Linked DNA regions of Homo sapiens. The protein of the gene in region 2 interacts with the protein of the main gene of each other region in a biochemical or structural test. Each region holds a gene or a part of one and is shown on either strand. Other genes may lie near its edges.

Evidence for each region.
Region 1: the proteins of RABEPK (region 2) and RAB9A form a complex in vitro, tested with the Homo sapiens proteins (one study listed by BioGRID).

The regions. Positions count from the first base shown.
Region 1 is NC_000023.11:13,705,864-13,711,058, reverse strand, and holds the end of RAB9A (ras-related protein Rab-9A), read right to left. Parts: intron 2,339-5,195; 5' UTR 2,313-2,338; coding exon 1,707-2,312; 3' UTR 555-1,706; downstream 1-554. UniProt on the Homo sapiens protein: The small GTPases Rab are key regulators of intracellular membrane trafficking, from the formation of transport vesicles to their fusion with membranes.
Region 2 is NC_000009.12:125,231,507-125,234,944, forward strand, and holds the end of RABEPK (rab9 effector protein with kelch motifs), read left to right. Parts: intron 1-1,089; coding exon 1,090-1,239; intron 1,240-2,181; coding exon 2,182-2,474; 3' UTR 2,475-2,655; downstream 2,656-3,438. UniProt on the Homo sapiens protein: Rab9 effector required for endosome to trans-Golgi network (TGN) transport.

The DNA.
Region 1 (5,195 bases), on a different chromosome or scaffold from region 2:
TTGTAATTTTGTATCTTCCACACAGCACATTGTAATTGTTACATCAGTTAACAAATGCAGGTTTGTCTGTTCTCCAGTTCAGTAGTTTGCTTTTTTTTTTTTTTTTTTTTTTTTTGAGGTGGAGTCTCACTGTCACCAGGCTGGAGTGCAGTGATGTGATCTCGGCTCACTGCAACCTCCACCTTCCGGGTTCAAGTGATTCTCCTGCGTCAGCCTTCCGAGAAGCTGGGACTACAGGCACGATGCCCAACTAATTTTTGTATTTTTAGTAGAGACCGGGTTCACCATGTTGTCAAGGATGGTGTCGACCTCTTGACCTCCAAAAGTGTTGGGATTGCAGGCGTGAGCCACCGCGCCTGGCCTTGCCTTTTTTCTTAAAACCGAACTGTATCTCTGCTGGGGGCAGTGGTTCACTCCCTACATGACAGTCAGCTCCTCTCACCCAGCATGTCCTTTGATATCCCCATCACTCCCCAGTTGAGGGTCTCATCCACACTCAGTCTAGGCTTTGGTTAGCCTCCATAGAATCAGATAGTCACCAACCACACAGCATATGAACTTCATCCACAAAAGACCACAATTTGCTTTATCAAGTCTGATCACTGCAACAAGTCTTTTTCTAACAAAAAATCTCCTTGAGAGCAAATCACTAAATGTTCAGTAATAGAGAAGACACTAAGTAAATACATTGCCGAATAAAGATGTCTTCGTTTACCCTCTCACAAAGTACAATCCTTCTTAGTATTTCTTCTGAGAGTGATAAAGTCAGCTTGTGTCTTGTGTTATAAAGGAATGTTTTAACTTCAATTAAGAAACTTTCCCCAAGGGTCAAGAAAGTAACAAAAATATTTAGTCCATTAATCGAATTGTAATTTTGTATCTTCCACACAGTACATTGTAATTATTACATCAGTTATCAAATGCACATTTGTCTGTTCTCCAAGTTCAGTAGTTAGCCTTTTTCTTAAAACTGAACTCTATCTATGGAAAGGCTTTCCATTCATAGACAACTTGAATTTAGCTGGATGTATTACAGACTGTATGAAGCAACTCTTGTACCACTGGGGGCCCACCCTCCGCCTGAGACTGTGGAACATGATTTATGGGGGTGGGGGTGCATGAATGGCACACAAATGATGAGTAATTACTAGTGAGAGTAATTCTAGTATGTAGAATGAAAACAGGAATGGTTAAATCATTTTGAAGAGAATGAAGAAGTAAATTAACAATGCATTGCAAATACATTAGATTTTAATCTTTAATATCTAACATTATTGCTTTAGGAAAGTATTTCCCTGAACCAAGAATACAATGCTAATTGCATAAAAACATACACATATAAAAAGTAGTTCTCCATTTTCCCAGGAAAAAATCCAAGTATAACTTCTAGAATAGTCAAGTTTCTTATTTTTATTATAATTAAAGTCTTGGTCATTTCATTTATTAGCTCTGCAACTTACATATTTAAATTAAAGAAACGTTATTAGACAACTGTTACAATTTATAAATGTAAGGTGCCATTATTGAGTAAATATATTCCTCCAAGAGTGGATGTGTCCCTTCTCCCACCAACTAATGAAGCAGCAACATTAGTTTAATTTTATTAGTAGATGATACACTGCTGCAAACGCTAATTCTCTTCTCCATCCCCATGTTGATTTTGTGTATATGTGTGAGTTGGTTAGAATGCATCAACAATCTAACAATCAACAGCAAGATGAGCTAGGCTTGGGCTTTCGGTGAAGATTGACTGTGTCTGTCTGAATCAAATGATCTGACCTATCCTCGGTAGCAAGAACTCTTCGAACCGCTTCCTCAAAGGCTGCTGCCACATTTGTGGCATCTTTTGCACTTGTTTCAAAATAAGGATAGTCGCCGTTGTCCCTGCACCAAGCTTGGGCTTCTTCTGTAGACACCTGCCGTTCGCTTATGTCAATCTTGTTACCCAGAATCACAAAAGGAAAGCTCTCAGGCTCTTTCACATCTGCATAATATATGAATTCTTTCTTCCAGTTACTTAAGTTCTGGAAGCTTTGTGAATCATCGACACTAAAAGTAAGCAGGCAGCAGTCAGAACCTCTGTAAAATGGTGTCCTCAGGCTTCGGAATCGCTCCTGACCTGCCGTGTCCCAAATCTGCATGGTAACAAAATGTCCATCCACTTCCAAATCTTTATTTAAAAATTCCACACCTATTGTATGGAAGAGCTGGGTATCAAACTTATTAGTTACATATCTGTTCATAAGTGAACTCTTCCCAACTCCACCATCTCCAAGGAGAATTACTTTAAAAAGTGATGATTTTCCTGCCATTGTTAATCTCAAAAGCTTCAAGAACCCTGTAAAATAAAAAGGCACCATTACATTCCTTTATACCTACACATTCTTCTACATGATTCTACGAATATCAGCATTTAGCTGAAATAAAACATATGGCCCCAGGGAATACCTAATAATAAGACTTGTTGTTTACTGAGCACTTAGCCATGTGCAGGCTACTATTCTACCATTATTCTCTGAAACAGCTGGGAAGGGCTCACTCTTCCCTTTTCTCAGGTCACAGTTGACTGTGAAGCTGGCACTCAAGCCCAAGTCTGACCCCAAAGCCCTTGCTCTGAACCGTTACTCTATGATAAGCCCCTCTCTGCTCATAGTAAGCCCCACCATTTGTTAGAGATGGGTAGGAGACCAAAGTTCGCATGTTGTTGTTGTTGTTGTTTTGGTTTTGTTTTTTTTTTTGAGACAGGATCTCGCTGTCACCCAGGTTGGAGTGCATGGGACCATCTTGGCTTACTGCAGCCTTGAACTCCCAGGCTCAAGCAATCCTCCCACCTCAGCCTCCCAAGTAGCTGAAATCACAGGTGCACACCACCATGCCTTGCTAATTTTTCTATTTTTTTGTAGAGACAGGGTCTCAACCACGTTGCCCAGGCTGGCTTCAAACTCCTGGGCCCAAGCAATCCACCTGTCTTGGCCTCCCAAAGTGCTGGGACTACAGGCGTGAGACACCATGCCCAGCCCACATGTTTCTCTTAACAACTTCAAACAGCCCTTCAGTGCACAGTGATGGTGTTCACTTAAGGCCTCTCTCCTACCAGGGACTTTCTCTACTACTCCCTCCACCTCTCTTCAGACACAGGTGCTGTTAACCAGGAAAGCCAGAGACAGAAACTGACTTACCTGGCTGTGAAATAAAGTATGAACCAACCACTGAGTAAATGGACTTTATTCTCTTCATTAAGAACATTATTTTGAATTTGTTCAAATTAATGTCAGCAGCAATGGAATTTTTAATATAATCTAGCACATTCTATCCACAAGATTCACTTGGGCAGTTCAAACACTTAAGGAACATGAGACTGCTGCTACTTGTGTGTTTTCAGGTAGAATGAAATAAACCTTAAATGAAAATGTGGTACTATATGTGTTCTTTAGAAGTCCTGTGGCAGGATTAAAAACTTTACTACACTACAAGAGCCAGCCTGTGGGGGGTGAGATTTCAGATGCCCGTTGACAGACAGCTACTTCTAGGTGCTGGTGGGAGCACAGTTCCTGGTTAATCCTTCTGCTTACATTTTTATTGTGAAAAATGTAAAACATGTACAAAATTTCTATATAATGAGTACAATACAATGAGCTCCCATGAACTCTAAACCCAGCTTCACAATTATCAACTTATGGCAAATCTTGTTTCCTCCATAACCCCTCCAACTCTCCCTTCTCCCCAGTTATTTCGAATCAGATTATATCATTTAATCTGTACTTTAGTATTAAATGGTTTTTAAGTATACTAAAATGTATATAAGAAGATAACTATTAGAGCAGCACTGTACAAGAGAATTTTATGCAACAATGGAAATGTCCAATATAGCAGCCACTTAGCCGCATGTGACTGTGGAACACTTGACATGAGGCTGATGGAAGTGAAAAACCGCATTTTAAATTTTATTCAATTTTAAATAAATAGCCACATTTAATGAGCCAATTGGAGAGCACAGATCTAGAGCAAATTTGGTCAATAACCTTAATAGGAAAGTAGGTATTATGAATCCCTCCATGGGAAGGCAATAAAGACATGAACAATAATTGTTATATTGACCAGGATGAATTTGTAAAATCACTGCAGTAAACATTATCTGGCTGTCTCCTGGTTATATGCAATGTGAGCAACTATAGTGTAACTGAACACTTACTGTAACATGTAGGAATTCTGCACTTCTAGCCACATGCTCCACTGTTCTGATAAAAACCTTGTAGTGGCTTGTATAGTGAGAAATCAAGTGAATGGGAAATACTATTAAAAAATGATGGGACATACCTTAGTCCCTACCTCTTACTGGTTCTTTCAAATTACTACTACAGGCCAGGCACGATGGCTCACACCTGTAATCCCAGCACTTGGGGAGGCTGAGGCGGGCAGGTCACTTGAGGTCAGGAGTTCGAGACCAGCCTGGCCAACATGGTGAAACCCCGTCTCTACTAAAAATACAAAAAAAAAAAAAAAATTAGCTGGACGTGGTGGCAAGCGCCTGTAGTCCCAGGTACTAGGCTGAGGCAGGAGAATCCCTTGAACCTGGGAGGCGTAGGTTGCCGTGAGCTGAGATTGCACCACTGCACTCCAGCCTAGGTGACAAAGCAAGACTCCATCTCAAAAAACAAAACAAATTAATACTACAGTAATTACTACTATAATTAATATTAATACAATTTAAACTGTCCAACACAAGTGTGTGGCAGTTAAGGTGCATACCTTTTGAGAGACTTTTTCAATTTCAAATGTATTGCTCAATATCCAGACTATTAATGTTAAAGAGGAAACTGCAACAGTCCCAAGCCCCTTACTTTCCTGACATAGGTAACAATGTGCTAAATTGGCTGCTTTAATTCTTTGGCATCTTGCTTCAACAACTTAAAAAGAAAAGATTGAAAACCATAAAAGCAAACCAACTATTTTGACATAGGGGAACCATCTATCTAATGTCTCCTCAGAATTCTTCAGCGGGTTGTTTCCCAGAGATCCAGGACTAAGTCCAACTTCTAAGGCAAGACACCTGGCCCCTGCTCTTGGCCAGCCTCACTCTAGCCACCTTCCCCTCACAGTCTCTGCTTCAGTCATTCTGAATGCACCATCACCCGGAACTAAAATTCAATTCCACTCACTCAGCACACCCCACACCCTCTTGCCTCCACCCTGGC
Region 2 (3,438 bases):
GAAAGGGGAGGCCAGGCACCAGGCCATGGCTCCCGCCTGTAATCCCAGCACTCTGGGAGGCCGAGGTGGGTGGATCACGAGGTCAGGAGTTCAAGACCAGCCTGGCCAAGATGGTGAAACACCGTCTCTACTAAAAATACAAAAAATTAGCCAGACCCGGTGGCAGGTGCCTGTAATCCCAGCTACTCGGGAGGCTGAGGCAGAGAATTGCTTGAACCTGGGAGTCAAGATCAAGCCACTGCACTCCAGGCTGGGCAACAGAGCGGAAAAAAAAAGAATAAGAAAGGGGATAGGCAGAAGTAATAGAAATTTCATAGGGCTGTTATGAAAATTAAGTGAGCAAAATTTGTTGTTTAGCCAGCACTTACAAAATCGCTAAGGAACTGTATTTTTTTTTTTTTTTTTTTTTTGAGACGGAGCTTCGCTCTTGTTGCCCAGGCTGGAGTGCAATGGTGTGATCTCAGCTCAGCGCAACCTCCGCCTCCCAGGTTCAAGCGATTCTCATGCCTCAGCCTCCTGAGTAGCTGGGATTACAGGCATGCACCACCATGCCTGGCTAATTTTGTATTTTTAGTAGAGACGGGGTTTCTCCATGTTGGTCAGGCTGGTCTCGAACTCCCGACCTCAGGTGATCCGCCCGCCTCGGCCTCCCAAAGTGCTGGGATTACAGGCGTGAGCCACCGTGCCCGGCCCAGGAACTGTATTTAAAGTACACACACACACACACACACACACACACAGAGACAGAGAGAGAGAGAGAGAGAAACTGAGCTAATTCGAGGCAGTTAATAGTGAATGGTTGAAGGTGACTGTTATTATAAAGGTTGTATCACATTTCTGTGTGATCCAAAGACTGCCTACATCAGAATCGCCTGAGATTCTGGGAATCACTGAGCCCCTCCCTGCCTTCCTCCCTGGACTACCCAATCATAATGTCAGAGTTCCCCAAATAATTCTTATGTGCACTAAACCTCTCAGAGCTCTTGGTGAATGACTTTCAGTGATTGGTGTGCAAACTACAGTAGATAGATAAGTTTGAAAGCACATCTTAGCCCATGCTGCGCCAAAGCTCTTTCTTTCTCTTGGCAGGTGACATGAAATGGCAGAAGCTAAATCCCACTGGGGCTGCTCCAGCAGGCTGTGCTGCCCACTCAGCTGTGGCCATGGGAAAACATGTGTACATCTTTGGTGGAATGACTCCTGCAGGAGCACTGGACACAATGTACCAGTATCACACAGGTGAGCAGGTGTCCATGGGGGATCTTTAAACAAATCTAAACATTCTTTGAAACGTGATGCGGTGGCTCACGCCTGTAATCCCAGCACTTTGGGAGGCCGAGGCAGGCAGATCACGAGGTCAGGAGATCGAGACCATCCTGACCAACATGGTGAAACCCCATCTCTACTAAAATACAAAAAATTAGCCAGGCGTGGTGGCGGGCGCCTGTAGTCCCAGCTACTCGGGAGGCTGAGGCAGGGGAATTGCTTGAACCCAGGAGGCAGAGAGGTTGCAGTGAGCTGAGATCACACCACTGCACTCCAGCCTGGTGACAGAGCGAGACTCTGTCTCAAAAAAAAAAAAAAAAGAAAGAAAGAAAAAAGTGATGCAGTGCTTCCAATTTGGTTCCTCTATATCTAAATCCAAAAGAATGAAAACTCTGTAGGGGATGACATCAGGAAAGCAGCAATGCTGCCATAAGGTTTTTTTCCTTTTACTCCTGTTTGTTAGGACTCGGCTGCTACAGTAAATCACTGAGCATTTCTAGAAATTTCATTACTTTTTAAATTTTATTCAGATTTTGGCTTTCACTATCTGGAAATTGTTTTTTTTTTTTTTTTTTTTTTTGTCTGAGATGGAGTCTCACTCTGTCGCCCAGGCTGTAGTGCGGTGACGTGATCTTGGCTCACTGCAAGTTCCACCTCCTGGGTTCACGCCATTCTCCTGCCTCAGCCTCCCGAGTAGCTGGGACTACAGGTGCCCGCCACCATGCCCAGCTAATTTTTTTTTTGTATTTTTGGTAGAGACGGGGTTTCACCGTGTTAGCCAGGATGGTCTCCATCTCCTGACCTCGTGATCCACCCGCTTCGGCCTCCCAAAGTGCTGGGATTACAGGCGTGAGCCACCGTGCCCGGCCTATCTGGAAATTTCTTAACATGAAGCCTTTTCCCTCCCCAACATAGAAGAGCAGCATTGGACCTTGCTTAAATTTGATACTCTTCTACCCCCTGGACGATTGGACCATTCCATGTGTATCATTCCATGGCCAGTGACGTGTGCTTCTGAGAAAGAAGATTCCAACTCTCTCACTCTGAACCATGAAGCTGAGAAAGAGGATTCAGCTGACAAAGTAATGAGCCACAGTGGTGACTCACATGAGGAAAGCCAGACTGCTACACTGCTCTGTTTGGTGTTTGGTGGGATGAATACAGAAGGGGAAATCTATGACGATTGTATTGTGACTGTAGTGGACTAATAAAACCCACATTTTTATTACCTGTCAGTTACTTTCAGAATAGTTAAGTAAAACATTAGCTGTTTTATACCTCCAAAATATCTTCTGCATTATATATCTGTTTTTCTCCTACTTTGGTAGGTGAAGAAACTAATGCAAATAATTCTTATGTGCACTAAACCTTGCTATATTGCCTCTCAGAGCTCTTGGGAATGACTTTCAGTGACTGGTTTGCAAACTGTGGTAGATAGATAAGTTTTGCCCAATGCAAAAACCTCCACTGCATTAACATAAAAGGCTTTGGGCCAGGCTTGGTGGCTCACGCCTGTAATCCCAACACTTTGGGAGGCTGAGGAGGTGGATCACCTGAGGTCGGGAGTTCAAAACCAGCCTTACTACCATGAAGAAACTCCGTCTCTACTAAAAACACAAAATTAGCCGGGTGTGCTGGCCCATGCCTGTAATCCCAGATACTCAGGAGGCTGAGACAGGAGAATCGCTTGAACCCGGGAGGCGGAGGTTGCGGTGAGCTGAGATCACACCATTGCACTCCAGCCTGGGTGACAAGAACGAAACTCTGTCTCAAAAAAAAAAAAAATATATATATATATACATATATACACACATATATATGTATACATATATAGTATATTTATATGTATACATATATATGTATACATATTTATATATACATGTATTTATATATGTATACATAAACACATATATATGTATACATATATATATATATAAAAGGTTTTGCCAACAATACAAACCTAGGTAGGTGTGATTTGTGTATTAAATGCTAATCACAAAGTTGCAATATGGTTAGGGTTAAAAAAGAAGTTGCAGAATTATAATTGGTAAACAACAAACTATAGACATCAGACACATAGTTGAAGTCTATCTTTTTAATATTCAGTAACAGCTCCTCAGAAAGAGTTACAGACTAGGTGGTCCACGGTAGTGAGAGCCTTTGAGGTAAGGG